Regions from separate parts of the Homo sapiens genome. Here region 2 is linked to region 1. A link means that fine-mapping ties the variant in region 1 to the expression of a gene that starts in the linked region. Tissue or cell type: cerebellum. Region 1 holds a variant in brackets; the other region holds the start of a gene. All regions are shown on one strand. Distances are between the middles of the regions.

Evidence for each region. PIP is the estimated chance that this variant, and not a neighbour inherited with it, causes the effect.
Region 2: it holds the start of HDAC7, and the variant in region 1 is fine-mapped to the expression of HDAC7 in cerebellum (GTEx, PIP 0.93).

What each region holds. Positions count from the first base shown.
Region 1 is chr12:47,357,868-47,365,971 of GRCh38, forward strand. The region is part of intron 1 of LINC02416 (long intergenic non-protein coding RNA 2416); the gene reads left to right. It overlaps MIR4494 (microRNA 4494), which reads right to left and starts at 6,402; the gene lies at 6,319-6,402. RefSeq lists a silencer at 3,715-3,764. The variant A/G (reference allele first, on the strand shown) is at 4,837.
Region 2 is chr12:47,814,869-47,822,972 of GRCh38, forward strand. It overlaps HDAC7 (histone deacetylase 7), which reads right to left and starts at 5,035. Exons shown (of 26, transcript NM_015401.5): 1 at 4,899-5,035. The coding sequence starts at 4,917. RefSeq lists enhancers at 2,230-2,339, 2,586-3,246, 3,964-4,537, 5,876-6,797 and silencers at 4,446-4,755, 4,766-4,845, 4,986-5,325.

The DNA.
Region 1 (8,104 bases):
CGGGGATTCCAGGGTGCCAACCGTGCAGCGGCCTCAGAGAGCAACCTGAGCAGATCGAAGCAAGTCTCCAGAAAACATAGCTCCAAAAAGATGAAATTGATATATTTGAACATATGGGAAGAACATCCACACTTCTGAAGAGGACTGGGGTCAAATTGCTGATAACTGCTTACATAGCTAAGCAAATTTTTAAAAAAGAATATTAACTTTAGGGAACATCGAAAGATCTTAAATAAAAAGTAACCATGATTTATCACATGGCTTGGTTGCAAGTAGTCACTTTTTCATAATAATGAAAACACTGAATACTGATCTAACCATAAAAATACTTTGACTCTATGGGGAGATGGGGGACTGGAAGTGTACATGTGTGTACAGATGTGACTAGGAAGGGGTGTGGGGAGTGCTGAATCCACGCATTCCTTAAAGAAGTCAGGATCATGTCCAAAACTTGGAAAATAATAGAGAGGAAGCAATACAAGAAAATTATTTAGAATTATAGCCATAATTTTTTTAAAGCTAAAAGACTCGAGGCTGGGCTCCGTGGCTCAGGCCTGTAATCCTAGCACTTTGGGAGGCCGAGGCGGGCGGATCATGAGGTCAGGAGATGAAGACCATCTTGGCCAACACGGTGAAACCCCGTCTCTACTAAAAATACACACAAAAAAAAATTAGCTGGGTGTAGTGGCGGGCGCCTGTAGTCCCAGCTACTTGGGAGGCTGAGGCGGGAGAACAGCGTGAACCCAGGAGGTGGAGCTTGCAGTGAACTGAGATTGCGCCACTGCACTCCAGCCTGGGTGACAGAGTGACACTCCGTCTCAAAAAAAAAAAAAGACTTGATCACAATTTCTTGGGAAGTGAAAAATAGGGAGAAGGAATGAAAAGTTGTCAATTGCAGCACTTTTTGGCTCTCTAATCTATGCACCTATATAAATTTGATTTAAAAGTTTAAAACTTTTTTCAAAACATGGAATGATGATATAAAATGAAGACAGAAAGTATACAGCAACACTGTCCAAAAGAAGTTTCTTCAATGATGGAAATTACATCCAATATGATAGCCCCTTGAAATGTGACTAGTGTGAGTGGGGAATTAAATTTAGAGGTTTATTAAATTTAAATCAATTTACATTTAAATAGCCACGTATGGCTAGTGGCTGTTATATTAGACAGTGCATCTATATACAATGGCCTGCTCCTATCTAGAATCAACTTTCCTTTTATAATTGAGCCTTCTTTCTTCTTCTAGTTTTTGTTTGTTTGTTTGTTTGTTTCTAAGCATTATTTATTTATTTATTTATTTATTTTACTTTCTCAATTTTTATTTTAGGCTCTGTGGTAGTTGTGTAGGTTTGTTACACAGGTAAATTGCATGTCACTGGGATTTGGTGTACAAATGATTTTGTCACCCAGGTAGTTAGCACAGTACATGACAGGTTGGTTTTTTACCTTCACCCTCTTCCCATCCTCCCCACTCAGTTAGGTCCCAGCGTCTATTGTTCTTTTCTTTGTGTCCATGTGTACATAATGTTTTGCTCCCACTTATAAGTAAGAACGTGTGGTATTTGGTTTTCTGTTCCTGCATTAATTTGCTTAGGATAGTGACCTCCAGCTGCATCCCTGTTGCTGCAAAAGACATGATCTCATTCTTTTTTATGGCTGCATAGTATTCCATGGTGTATATGTATGACATTTTCTTTGTACAGTCCATCATTGATGGGCACCTAGGTTGATTCCATGTCTTTGCTATTGTGAATAGTGCTGCAGTGAACATATGGGTGCATATGTCTTTTCGGTAGAAAAATTTATATTCCTTTTGGATATATACCCAACAATGGGACTGCTGGATCGAATGGTAGTTCTGAGTTCTTTGAGAAACCTCCAATCTGTTTTCTACAGTGGCTGAACTAATTTACATTCCTACCAGCAGCATATAGGCATTACCTTTTCTCTGCAATCACACCGGCATCTGTTATTTTTTGATTTTTTAATAGTAGCCATTCTGACTGGTGTGAAATGGTACGTCATTGTGGTTTTGATTTCATTTCTCTAATGATCAGTGATGTTGAGCATTTTTCGTGCACTTATTGGCTATGTGTATGCTTTCTTTTGAGACATGCAACTGACCCTTCTTTCTCTCCTGTGTAATCTTTTTGTCTGTTCTATGAATCCTTCCTACCAGCATGCTAAAATGTTATTTACCTTTTTTTTTAAAGTGCTGTTGCTTTGACCCCCATCCCTCTGTGACTATCCACCCCATTTTCTGTTCCTTTATAGCAAAACTCCTCAAAAGACTTCTGTATACCTCAGCTGTCCTACACAGCAGCCACTAGCCACATATGGCTATATGCATTTAAATTAATTGAAATTAAATAAAATGTAAAATTCAGTTCCTCAATTTCACTGGCCATGTTCCAATCACTCAATAGTTATGTGTGGCTCTCGGCTTTGCCTTGAGGAGAGACAGGTACAGAATATTTCTATCATCTCAGGAAGTTCTATTGGGCTTTGATAGAACTTTAAGCACTGATAGGAACAGGAGGGAGGGCCAAGTAAATGGGTACCTTGCTGGCAGTTTGGTAGATTTGGTGCTGGAAGGATAATAAAATTATCTCCTAGTTATTCTTTTTTTCTCAGTGGAATAAAAAATAAGTTCATCAGCTGAGAGTAAGGAAAGAGAAGGGACGCTCTAAGTAGGAGAATGAGAAGGTAGAAAACCTTTCCAGAGAGCAGGAGAGTGAATTGATAAAGGAAATAAAGAGTAAATATTCCTCCTCCTCCTTAACCTGAGTATGAAATTAAGGACAATAGGAATCATTATGTTTTCTTTTCATATTATTGCTGCTGTTCTCAGTGTTGTTATTAAAGAGGTCATCCTTAACACTGGGCATTCTAGATGGAGATGGAGGCATGAGCCAATTTTTCAGCTACTCCTTTTCCCCTGTAATTACTTTGAAATCAGGGATTACTGAGAAATCTCACTGTCGTGCTGTGACCACAACGTACACAGCAGGAAGGAAGGGGAGGTTCCTTCCTGGAGATGTTTTGCAGTGATAAGATACGGGCACTTCCTCAGTCAAGGGTCTTTTGATTTTAAGAAAGAGAAACCAACCCAAACAAACTTAAACAAGAAAAGGAGATGGACTGTAATGATACATGGGTGCCTCCTGGAACTTATAGGAGTACAGCTGGTCCTTATAGGAGCTTGACCCTGGGGGAGCCAGGAGACTAGAAAGCTCTCAGGAACAGGCAGAATCATGTTTCAAATCTCTGTGTCCCTCTCCCTCTTCCCTGCCCCACTGCCTGCACCTTGCCCCCATAAATATGGTTTCTCATGTCTTCTCCACAAGAAGTATTCTTTTCTCTTCTCTACAGAAAAGACCAGTTTTCTCTACAGCATTCTCAGCACACTTGATAGGTAAAAGATGGCCACTCCCATAAAGTCCTCCGTTCTTATTACCTCAGAACAAGCAAACTTCTCAAAGAAACAAGAACATCTCAGTCTCAGTTACAAAGTTCTGAGAGAATCTGATTAGTCAAACTTAGGACAACTGCCCAATGTGGGTTCAAACAACTCTGCTCGGGGACACGGCCACAGGTACAAACTTGACTTCCAGGGCCCATTCCCCCAGGGTGTAGGGCAGTTCTCAGAGCTCATTGGCTCCACCCTCTGGGAAGTCCTTTCTGTTCTATTATCTGCCTTGGTCATACTTGAAGTATTGAGCTACACAGCTTTCCACGTCCTGCCCTGAATTAGGGTGGTGCCTCAGGCTTTTTAGACCAGGCTTACAGTTTCTTTGTACTACTGAACGACTACCTCAAAAACCAGGAGGCCCCATCTATCTGCTTCCAGACATTTCCATGAGCAAATAACCATATTTAGAATTGTGTTTGAGGGACTTCTTTTATTTCTGCTTCATTCTTGTGCTTTCTTGTCCTCAAAACATCCTCCCTCTGCCTCTCCCCCGCACCTTCGTGGCCAGGACCTCGATTTAAGTAATTTTAATCCTCTAAAGTTTTAACAAGTTGTAAAAGTTGATCTAACCTTTGCCCTGAGGCATTTAATCAACTGATACACACACAAGTATGTATGTATGTATCTATGTGTGTGTGTGTGTATACATATACATATATATATATTTTTTTTCTTTTTTCCTAGCACTTTTTACTCAAAGCCTTTAAACTCTTCAGATTCTGAATCTAAAAGCAGTTGGTTTTTTCAAATTTATAAGACTCCAAATTTTTGGATTATCTTTATTCCCTTTTATTATTCATTATAAACTGGTCATTTCTTTCTGGAGTTGCTTCTCTCTCTCTCTCTCTTCCCTCCCAGTACTTTGCCAAACACAACCAGAAGCAACCACATATATAATAGCAGCAGTACAATAGGTGAATGGTCTTGCAAGGTAATCACAAGCAAAACCTTTACCAAATGTGTTGCCTTCTTCCCAGCATCTGATATCAGTTTCCTCTCTGTCATCAGCTGACTGCTAAGCCAGTATTTTAATTTTTTTTCAACAGCTTACCACTACTGGCCTCAGCATTTTTTTTTTTTCCAGTCAGGATAAGTTTTTTCACATTGCAGTAGCAACTTTCGCCTGGAATCTCAGTGGCCTTAATACAATAAAGCTGTGGGTCTGATGTGAGTCAGGTGAGTTCCCTGGGCAACTGCCCTGTGTGATGAAGTGGCTCAGTTATTGAAAAGATTTCTGTCGCTGGTTCTGTCATCTCAAGTCATGGGCTCCGAAATTGACCAACAAAGGAAAAGATCACAGGGAAAATTCACACCTGCTTTTCTAAGCTTTGATCCTGAAGTGAGACATATCACTGCTACTC[A/G]AAGTCCATTGACCAGGATTGGTTTTACCACTCCACCTAACTAGACAGGACCGGAAGTTATCTCTTCCATCGTCCTCAGCATGTTGAGAGAGCAGAGCTGTAAGATCAAAACAGCCTGGACAGTGGGGCCCCTAAAGTGAGGACCCCTGTCCTGGAGAGTGGCCCAATTGCACAGGAATTTACATGAGTGAGAAACAAAATTTTGTTGAAATAATACCCTGGGATTTGAAAATTTAATTATTCTTGCAACAGTCCATCCTATCCTGATTAATATGGGAACCCGAAAGATAGGAGTGAATGAAACAATATAGTTTCTTTTCCCTGAAGCAATTGTAATTCCAATCAAAATATCAATAGGATTTTTTTGGAGACTGACAAAATGTTGTAAAGGTCTTGTAGAATAATAGAGGAGTGAGAATAGCCAATACAACTGTAAATGAAATAATGAAGAAATAGTTTTATCCAATATTAAGATATTTTATAGGTAGAGAAATTATAAGAAATAAGAAAGCTGTTAATGGAGAATAAAGACCCCAGAAACAGACCCAAATACCTTTAAGAACTTAAAGTATTAATATTAATATAAGGCCATGTGCAGTGGCTCAGGCCTGTAATCCCAGCACTTTGGGAGGCTGAGGTGGGTGTATCACTTAAGCTCAGGAGTTCGAGACCAGCCTGAGCAACATTGCAAAACCCTGTCTCTACAAAAAATATAAAAATTACCTGGGTGTGCTGGTGCATGCCCGTAGTCACAGCTGCTTGGGAGGCTGAGGTGGGAGGATTACTTGAGCCCTGGAGGTCAAGTCTGCAGTAAGCCATGATTGTGCCACTGCACTCCAGCCTGGGTGACAGAGTAAGACTTTGTCTCAAAAAAATAAAATAAAATAAAATATAAATAAGGTGGTATTTTAAAGTTAATGGGAGAATATGAATAATTCAGAAATGTTGTGATGAACATGCCATTGGGGGAAAAAGTGCAGAAGTATCTTATGCCCAAACAAATTCTATGTGGATCAATAACTTGAATGTAAAATATGAAACCATAACAATACTGGAAAAATCATTGATCTTTTTCTCATAATTTTTAACTGGGGAAAAGTGACAGACATAAAAGATAAGATTGATAAATTTACTTATATAAAAGTTAAAACTTTTTCAAGACTAGAATACCGTAAAGTCAAGAGATAAACCACAGGATAGAAAAAAAAAGTCTGCAATTTATATAACAGGAAGAGGGTTAATTTCTTTTATATACAAAGCAATTAAAAAATCAGCAACAGAAAACTGAACAATTCAATAGAAAAATAAGTTTGCAACAAAAACAAAGCAAACAGCCAATAAACACATAACATTTTTAGCTATCTAAAAAAATCAAGGAATGTAAGTTAAAACAAGATACTGTTTTTCACTTTGTATATTTTGCAAAAATACTGGAGCTTGCACCCACCCCACCCAACCCCATTCTATGGTTTTACTTTCTGAGGTTTCAGTTACCTCTGGTCAGCCACAGTCTGGAATTTTCCATTTTGTATTTTCAGACTGCAGATGACCAGGGTAACTAAAACTTCAGAAAACAAAGTATTAAATGGAAAATTCCAGAAACAAACAACTTATACATTTTAAATTGTGCAGCATGGTATAATCCCATGGATAAAGGAGAACTACTGTAAAATGTTGATCTTACTCAAGAGTGTGGGAAACAGGACCACTCATGTATTATTAATGAAATGTAAATTGCTACAACTTTTTGGAAAGCAATTTGGCAATAACTATTAAAATTTAACAAGCACATTCTCTTAAACTCAGCAATTCTCCTTTCAGGAATTTTTCCCAAGGAAACGCTTTCACCAGGCGGCAAATATATACTGTATAGGAGTAGCATGATACTATTATTTGTAATAGTAAAAAAAAAAAAAAAAATTTAAATGCCCATCAAGAGAGGATTAAATAAACTATAGTGGCTCTGTAAAATGGGATATTACATAGCTGTTCCAAAGAACCAATGCATTTCTATGTCTTGATATGAAAAGTATCCAAACTAAACTGTTTTAAGTAGGAAAAAAAGGTAGAATACAATATCATTATAAGTGAAAATTCCTAGAATCACGTTTATACATATATTTATATACATGTATGTATATACATACAAATATCTGAGAAAAAAGAAATAATAGCTATGATTATCTTCAGCTATAATTACATTAAATATGGATTTGTAAGTAAGGAGGTAGGCGTTTACATTTCATACCCATTTGTAAGTTTTACAGCTTATGAATGTGTTGCTTTATGGTTAAAAACAAGATTTTAAACTATTAATCCTTTCATGCAAATATTAATTCTCCATTTCTACCATTCAATCTATATCTCAAAAAATTTGCATATACAAAAAAAACGGACCAAAGTTGTGGATGTTCAGAACATGTTATAAATGAGTAAACGAAGTCACCAATCATCATGAGAGGGGAGCACAATCTTTAGAAAGTCAAGCCCTGTTTCCACAGCAAGGAAAAATTCCCCAGGTTTAAGTGGTAATGGTTCTCTATCAACATTCCAAAAAGAAATTCAGTAATAATAGTAGTAGTAGCTGACATTTACTGAGTAGTGACTAAGTTGGATTCAGCAGTCAGCCCTTTTACACGCATCTTTTCTCTTTTTTTTTTCTGGCAGAGTCTTGCTTTGTTGCCCAGGCTGGAGCACGGTGGCATAATCTCGGCTCACTGCAACCTCAGCCTCCTGGGTTCAAGTGATTCTATTACCTCAGCCTCCCGAGTAGTTGGGATTACAGGTGTGCACCACCACGCCCAGCTAATTTTTGTATTTTAGTAGAGACAGCATTTCACCATGTTGGCCAGGCTGCTCTCAAACTCCTGACCTCAAGTGATCCACCCACCTTGGCCTCCCAAAGTGCTGGGATTATAGGCATGAGCCACGCCAGGCCAGGAATCTTCTCATTGAATCCCACAGACTCCATGTAGCAGGGGCACCAGGGCCAGTCCCATTCTACCAACGAGGAAACTAAGGATCAGAGAGTGAAATTAAGAAATCACACAAGAGACTCAGGGCTTGAGTTTCAAAGCACTTGTAATATGCTTCACTGCTGACTCCACCCCTTACTATGTGTCCTCAGTAAAGTGGCTCTGCCAGAGGCGTTTGAACCAGAGGACTCCATCTTGAATAGGGACTGGGTAAAATAAGGCTGAGACCTGCTGGGCTGCATTACCAAGAGGTTAAGGCATTCTAAGCCACAGGAAGAGATAGGAGGTCGGCA
Region 2 (8,104 bases), 460 kb after region 1:
CCACCTTGTTATTCTTTATTGCCATGCCCAGTTCATTTCCTTCTTAGGGCTTATCACAGTGTGTAACTAGTCACACATACTCATTCCTTTACTTGCCTACTTGTTCTGTTTGTCTTCTCCACGAGAGTGGAAGTTCCCTGAGGTCAGATGTTGTGCCTGTGTGTTCACTGCATATCTGTACCCAGTGCCTAGAACATTGCAAGGCTCAGCTAGGATCCAGTGAATGGATGAATTGCTGAGTGACTGGCTCAGCAACATGGTTCCCTGGTTGCCAACATTGACCTTTAGGGATGACACTCAACAGTTCCAGGATTTCTCCAAAAAGGAGGCAGCAGAATGTAGCAAGAAGAACAAGGTCAGAAAACAAGAAAGCCAGGACCCCAGAGGAAAGATCAGCCCCAATTAGCACCAGCCCAATCGGGTCCACGTCATCACAAAGTGTAGTTATGAGCACACATGCACACACACACACAGGGGGTACATGGGTGAGCACAAAGTCCTGGACAGGTCTTAGAAGCCTTGAGTTTTCTCTTGGTTCTTCCTCTTAATGGCCCTGTCACCTTAGAGAAACTACATACCTTCTGTGGGTCTATTTCCTCAAAAGAAAAAATGAAGAGGTTGACCCAGGGCAGTGGTCCTCAAACACAGCCTTGCCCCAGGATCACCTGAAGCACCTGTTAAAATCTGGATTCCCAGGCCCCACCCCTCAGATTCTGACTAGTCAATCTGGAATGGGCCTGATGATCTGAATGTTTTTAATTTTGAGACAGTCTCACTCTATTGCCCAGGCTGGAGTGAGGTGGCGCAATCTCGGCTCACTGCAACCTCCACCTCCTGGGCTCAAGCAATTCTTCTGCCTCAGCCTCCCAAATAGCTGGGACTACAGGCCTGCGCCACCATGCCTGGCTAAATTTGTATTTTTAGTAGAGATGGGGTTTTGCCCTGTTAGCCAGGCTCGTCTCGAACTCCTGCCTTCAAGTGATCTGCCTGTTTCAGCCTCCCAAAGCCACCGCGTCCAGCCAGGATTTTTTTTTTTTTTTTTTTTTACAGAGTCTTGCTGTCACCCAGGCTGGAGTGCAATGGCGTGATCTTGGCTCACCGCAACCTCTGCCTCCCGGGTTTAAGCAATTCTCCTGCCTCAGCCTCCCGAGTAGCTGGGATTACAGGCGCGCACGCCACACCTGGCTAATTTTTTGTATTTTTAGTAGAGACAGGGTTTCGCCGCATTGGCCAGGCTGGTCTTGAACTCCTGACCTCAGGTGATCCACCTGCCTCGGCCTCCCAAAGTGCTGGGATTACAGGCGTAAGTCACCGCGCCCGGCCCAGGATCTTTATCTTTAACACATTCCCCAGGTGACTCTGAAGCAAATGGTCCAGGAACCCGCATTTGAGAATCCCAAATGAGATGGTGTTTTACAAGCCAGCATCTGGACTTCTATTAAAAAGCCACTCCTGCCCAGATATATACCCCCAAAAAACATGTCCATACATATGGACATGTTTACCCCACACAGGGCCATAACCTGAAAAGGTGTGCACCATACAGATGATGCACATCTGTCTTTTATGTGTGCATATTCCCAAAACACCCAACACAGAACCACCACATAGATCACAAATTGCCCGGAACCACCACATCAGCATACACAGGGTCTGGGGGGAGGGGTACACACACAGATACCCACCACGCACCCAGTGTGTGCTCACACACATCTCATGCAGACCCACACTAAACAGACGCTGTCCTGAATTTATTTTGCCTCTGGGAACTGGTCCAGGACCAAAGGAGCTATGCTCTGCTGATGAAAACATCCCTCCCACCTCTGCCACCCCCACCCCTGCCCCTTGCCCCAGGCAGCATGCTACCCACCTCTCCCTTGTAGGAGGAGGGAGACTGGAGGAGGGCAGTGGGGATGGGTTGGGAGGAAACAAGAGGCTAGGCCAGCGACTCAAGTTGCTCAGGGCCCTTCCGGGCGTCCAGCTCCCCTCTTTCCCTCTCCCTTCCCCCCAGAAGACGCCAAAGGGCCTTCCCCCAGCCCGCGAGTCCATGCTCACTCAGGCCACTCGCCTAGATTCCCAGGCCCCTGATCCTAGGGAGCCAAAAGGGTTAGGGAGGTGGCTAGATCTGGGGACTCCTCCTAATACTCAGGCCTCTAAGGAAAGGGCTGTCTGGGGGCACCTTCCTGTAGCCCTAAGGCCTGGGGCCTCCAGGGAAGGTTACCACAGAAACAGGGGGAAAATATTACAAGGAAACACAATACCCGGCAGGGTCACCTGCTGACCGGGCTTCCTGCTGTGTTGCCCACCCCCAGCTCACTGCTCTCACAGCCTCCTTCTCCAGCCTTGGCCTGGGCCTCCTCACCAAGGCTCTCCTTCCTGCCTCCCCAGAGCTGGGAGAAGCAGTCTTAAGCAGAAACTCTGCCCCTCCGTGGTTCCAAACAACAACATCGAGGATGGCCCAGAGCTGAGCCCCCCACTCCTAATCCTTACCAACCCCTCCTCACCATCACCACAGGAAATCAAAGCTTCCTGCCCCAAAGGAAGTGCCCCATCTAGTGAACAAATCCAACACACACAAATGCACAGTCCTGGGAGCCTCCGGGAGGACAGATGCCCTCCCGCTAGCCCCAGACTTTATTCAGGCCCTGCTTCCAGCAATACCCCACACCCCACTGGAGGCCTCAGTCCGAAGTCTAACTGAGGGCAGGCCAGGGAGAGCCAAGCTGTGGAGGGTGGGCCAGCAGAATGGGCACTGGCAGAGTGAGAAGGCCTGGTTCTGGCCCCCTCCGCCTGCCATTCCCTGGCTGTGTGACCCTGGGCCTTGCATTAGCTCACCTTCTCTCAGGCCCCTGCCGACTTCAAAATTACCAGCCCTTAATGAAAGGCCAGGAGAAAGAAGGCAAAGAGGAGATGGGGTTCCACAGGCTTCTGTCTTCCAAGTCCTTGGGCATGCTTGCCCACAGCTACCAGAGGGTCCCCACTCCCTACCCCATCACACATGAGTTTCTCTCTTGCTCAAGGGTTTTATATCAGAATTGAGAAAGTTCCAGCTTCCATGCCAAGAGGCCACCAAGGACTAAAGCTGAGGTCCATTATCCCTAAGCAAACTGGAGGGGGTGGATAATAGCACAGTACCTTCATTCTCCTCTCCATAGTCAACCTCTTCTGCTCTGCTCTGAGAAGTGTGCTTGGAATTTTCTCCCCATTTTACTGATGGGGAAACTGAACTTCAGTGTCAAAGTGGAGTGAACAGCTTAGACATGCAAACTTCCCTGCCCCAAAACCCACTGTAAGACCCGGTGGCCACAGAGACACCCGCCGAATAAGGGACACAGAGGCCTCTGGAGAACACTGCACCAGGACCATTCCAGGTGCAACATCAGGAGGCAGCTCTGAGCTTGCCTCTGAGCCTGGCCCTGCTGGGCAAGGAGGGACATCAGGGGACTAAAGGCAGAGGACCAGTCCCAATAGGTCCAAGACCTGGTTCCAGTCTAGGTTCACTGGGCTGGGTACCACTCACTGGGACTACTCTGTGCCTTAGTTTCCCTCAGAAATGACTGCAGAGAAGAAGAAAATGACTTAATAACCCATGGGTAGCGGCAGCCTAGCAGCCTATGGAGTCCTGGGAGGGGGAAAGGGCCGCCAAAGCGTCTCATTGGAGGGCAGGGACCTGAGTCACAGTCTCCTGCCAGCCCTATAGCTGAATAGGGGTCCTGAGGAAGGTCCCACAGGTCCAGATGCAAGTCCAGGGAACAGGCTGAGAAGTTGATCTTGAGCTCCCAGCAGGGCCGCTGAGGGCCGATGCCCCATTCTCACCCTAGAAAGCGGCAGGCAGAGCTGGGCCTCAGGCAGATGTTGCCTAGGGGAGTGGGCAGGGAGCGTTGGCAGCGAGACAGCCAGTGTCCAGATGCAGGGGGAGGCCTTTGGGTGCGCAAGACAGCCAGCGGGGAGAAGGAGTGAGGAGCAGCCGTGGCTGGGGAGGTCAGACCCAAACGGGCAGCCACAGCGGGAAGCAATGGGGGTGGGGCACTGGGTGGCCTGCGGGCCCCAGAGGGCTCTCTCCTGGCCCACAGGCCTAGAAACTCTGGTCGTGGGAACCCAGCCCATCCGCCAAATTTGCCGCCTGCTCTCACACTCCCCAACACCAACAGACCCCAGGCCTGGGGGGTGCACATCCTGTCCCCCACCCCTCACACAGCCTGCGGCGCCCCGCTTCCCGCGCCGCTGCCGGCATTGACCTCCACAGCTCACCAGGGCACAGGTGTCTCTTCACCCTGATGGGTGAGCAAGGATGGGGGGCAATGCTCAGAGAAACCTCCCAGCCAGAGACCCCTCCAAGGGACCTCTTTCCCCGCCGAAGGATCTGAGTAGGGCCCTGCCCGGCTCCACGGGATGGGGGCGCTGATGTCCAGCCCCACAAAGCCCAGCCCCAACTCAGTGGGTCCTGCCCTTTGCCCTCGCGCTTCCAAACCTTCCGCCCCGGAGCACCGCCCCCTCGCCGGGCCACCGCGGCCGTCCCTCCCTCCCCGGTCCCTCGGCTCGTCCTCCCCGGGAACAGGGGTGATGGGACGTGGGGCCCGCACACCGGCGGCCGGGGCCTCCAACTCCCTCCCTTGGGCCTGTAGCTGCCCCGGGGCGGGCGGATGTGGGCGCCCCGCGGGAGGCCCGAGCCCTCCGGCCCCCGGAACCAGCTCCGACCCGGAGCCTGCCAGAGCCCCGCGGAGCCGGGCGGGACAGGCGCGGTCGGGGGGCGCAAGCCGGGCTGGGCCCGCGGGGCTGGCGGGAGCCCGAGCCGGAGCCGGAGCCGGAGCCGGGGCCAGGGCCGGAGGCCGAGCCTGGGCGGGCGACGCTGGGTGCCGCGCGCAGGGCGGGGCGGGGGGCGGCCGCCCAGTACTCACCAGCGCCGGGGCTGTGCATCCAGGGGCCGGGGCCCTCAGAGCGGGGGGCTCATGGCGGGGCGGGGGGCTGGGGCGCCGGCCTCACATCCCCCCAGTCGCCGGAGGCTGCAGAGCGACTGTGAGACGGCGAGAGGAAGGGAGGGGGCCGGGAGGGGGAGGGCCCTGGCAGCCCGGCCGGCCGGGTAGGATGACAATGGAAGGAAATGCTTTATCTGAGTCTGAGAGCGGGCCAAGGGGGAGGGGAGGGAGGGGGCAGGCGCTCGCGGCCCTGGGACACACCACCCCGGCAGACACTGCACCGCGCGGCGCACAGGCGGGCCGCAGACACCGCGCGCGGCCAGATCGCGGCGGGGCGCGGCGCACTGCCGGGGAGGCAGCGCCGAACCCGGAACGCCGGCCGCGGCTCCGAGCCCCAGCCGCCGCGAGGCGCTCCGAGCCGTGCACAATTCCCGGAAACCCAGCTACCTGGGCGCACGCACCCTCGCATACACAACGTACACGAGCACGCATCCATGTTTACAAGGGGCAGAATCATTTACACAGCACACACTGGGGCTTCGGGGTGGACCCCCGTGCACACACTACATACCCGTACAGCCCACAAGCACGCAGCCACACGCGGGCACAGTGGGACACGCGTGGTGTCCCATGTCCCATACAAGGAATCCCAGACGGACACCCCCCACCACACACACACACACATAAGCACGACTTGCCTCAGGAAAGTTCCAGGATCTGATTTGAATCACTGCCCAGCCCTCCCCCACTGGCACCCCCACACACACACCATGCCTGCTGAGGGGAACGGAAGGGTCCAGCCTGTTCCTATTAAAAGAAAAAGGGTGTGGGGGTGGTGCAGATTTTGAAAGTTTTCTTTTTTTAAAGAAATTTCTCAAGGGACTTCCTTCCCTCCTCTCCTCTTCCTCTCTTCCTCCCATTCCTCTCCCTCCACAACCCCCCTCTTTCCCCCTCCCGGTCCCTATGAGTCAAACTTCAGCAATGTGCCCAGTGTCCCCCAGTGCATTACAGCGGATCACAGAAATGTTCCAGTCTGTGAGTCGGAATGCAGCCGCCTCCAGCCCTCCCTCAGCTAATAAACTCAGCTCAGGGCCGGCTTTAGGCAGTGGCCCTCCCTGCCTCTCCCTCCGCTTTTAGCTGGAGAGAAGGTCAGATTCAGGGGTCAGGGGCTAAGGACCTCGCCATTGTGCTTCCTGGGCTAGCCGGTCAGCCGTGTCTGCCTCCAGCAATCTGGAGCTGCTCCTAGGAAGGGGAGAGGTCCACCACGCAGGAACACTGGGCTCTCTGCAGCGTGAGGCGCCACCATTGTAAACCAAGGAGCAGCTTCCCCTGACCCCATTCTATCTCCCGCAATCCTAAGAAACCCCAAGAATCCAGAGAAGGAAAAATTGAGGCAGCCCCAGAGGTGGAGTCATGTCTGATTGGAAGCAAGAGCCCACAGTGGCCTAGGAGGGCTTGGCCATGCTGGCGGTGAACTTCAAACCATAGATTCTATTCCCTTCCCTCAGGCACAGCTCGGGACTCACTATCTGTTGCTACCGGCATATTCAGCGTGGGACTTCTTACTTCAGCCCCTTTCCTTGTCCCAGTTCTCCTTCGGCAGGCAGATCCAACCCCTCTGCGCTTGTTAACTTACCCTCCCAAAAGCCTTTCCTGGCATTCAAGTCCTCCTACAACCTGGCACCACACTCCATACACATCCCTGCCCAGTGCCTCCTGGTACTTAGGGCTCAGTAGTGTTAGTCACTATTATTACTATCATTATTTCTGCCAGACTGGGCTGCTAGCTGCTTCCCATCCTGTCCTCACGCTTCCACACTCCCTTGCCTTCGCTCATCATGCTGCCTCCAAAAGAAATGTCCTCCCAGCCCCTTTCTCCTTCTGTTGAAATCTTTCCAATCCTCAAGACCCACTCCCTATCTAGTGGGAGGGAGGGAGGGAGGGAAGGAAGGAAGGAAGGAAGGAAGGACTGGAAGAAAAAGAAAGTGGCATACCACTTTCTCCGGGAGGCTTTCCCGGATTCCCATAGCCAAGAGGAATTCTTCCCTGAACTGTGTGGTCTTTATACATTGACCTTCGCCCACCTAGTCTACTTGTCTCAACTCTCTTCCTTCCAAGAGCATTCAAGAGTGGATATCCCTGAGTCCAGCTACTGCCTTGGTCATGGGTGCATTTCTTGTAGTGTCTTGCACAGAATTCAAACTTGATGTGAGTTATTTGTTGAATTGGGACAGATGTTCATGACTTTCAAGAACCCTTCTCCAGCTGGACACCTACAGTACATTCTTTCACCCCATAACTACCCATGCTGACTCTCCAAGACACATGCTGTTCCACCTTAGGTATGTCATCCCCAGCCCTCAATTCCAAGCCAGATCATCCTCCTTCCAAATGCCTCTTTGGTGTCCACAGACTCCAGAAAAACTGCTTGGTTACTGCAGACCCCCAGCGACATGCCTGCTATCTCCCTTGTCTAGCTCCACAATTGATCCCAACCCCCAACACACACATATCCGTAGCTTTTCTGTAGCTATTTCTGTAGTAAAGCCAGGCCCTTTTATGCTCATTTCTACCATGTGCATTGTGCATACATTTATTTGTGAGTCTTCTTTCTCTTTTTAAACTCATCACTGAGTTTTGAGTGATCTGAATTAAGAGGCTATCTCCCTGCCTGTCTGTCCACACAGTGCCCAACATGTGGCTTTCTACACACCAGGACTCACTGCCTCCAACATATAGTCAGAGAAAAAGACAGCATGTGCAACCTGCATCTGGGAAAGCTGGACTGTGTCTCTCCTTCCCCTGCCAGATTTACTTACCAGACCCCGCCTCATGGCAGAGTCCTAAGCCAGTTTCTAAGTCACATGTCCCCTACCAGGATAAATTAGAAAGCCTCCAAGAACCTTAGAGACATGAGACAGAGAAATGCAAGCTACCTCTCTCTCTTCTAGCCTGGTTACCGTGGGGAGCCTTTTTTTAAAAAGCTCTTGAGTCCAGGCCTCTCATAGCTTTCTCAGCTGAACACCTAGCAGAAGAGACTGGCCCCAAAAGACGTGCCTTGGCTTCCTGAGCCTTCCCTAGAGTCTCCGGCCAGCACAAAGCCTGAGGGCACCCCAATCTGCTTCCCTTTGGGACTCTGGGCCTACTTGACCTTCTCTTCTCCTTTTCCTCTCCTTCTTTCCTTAGTT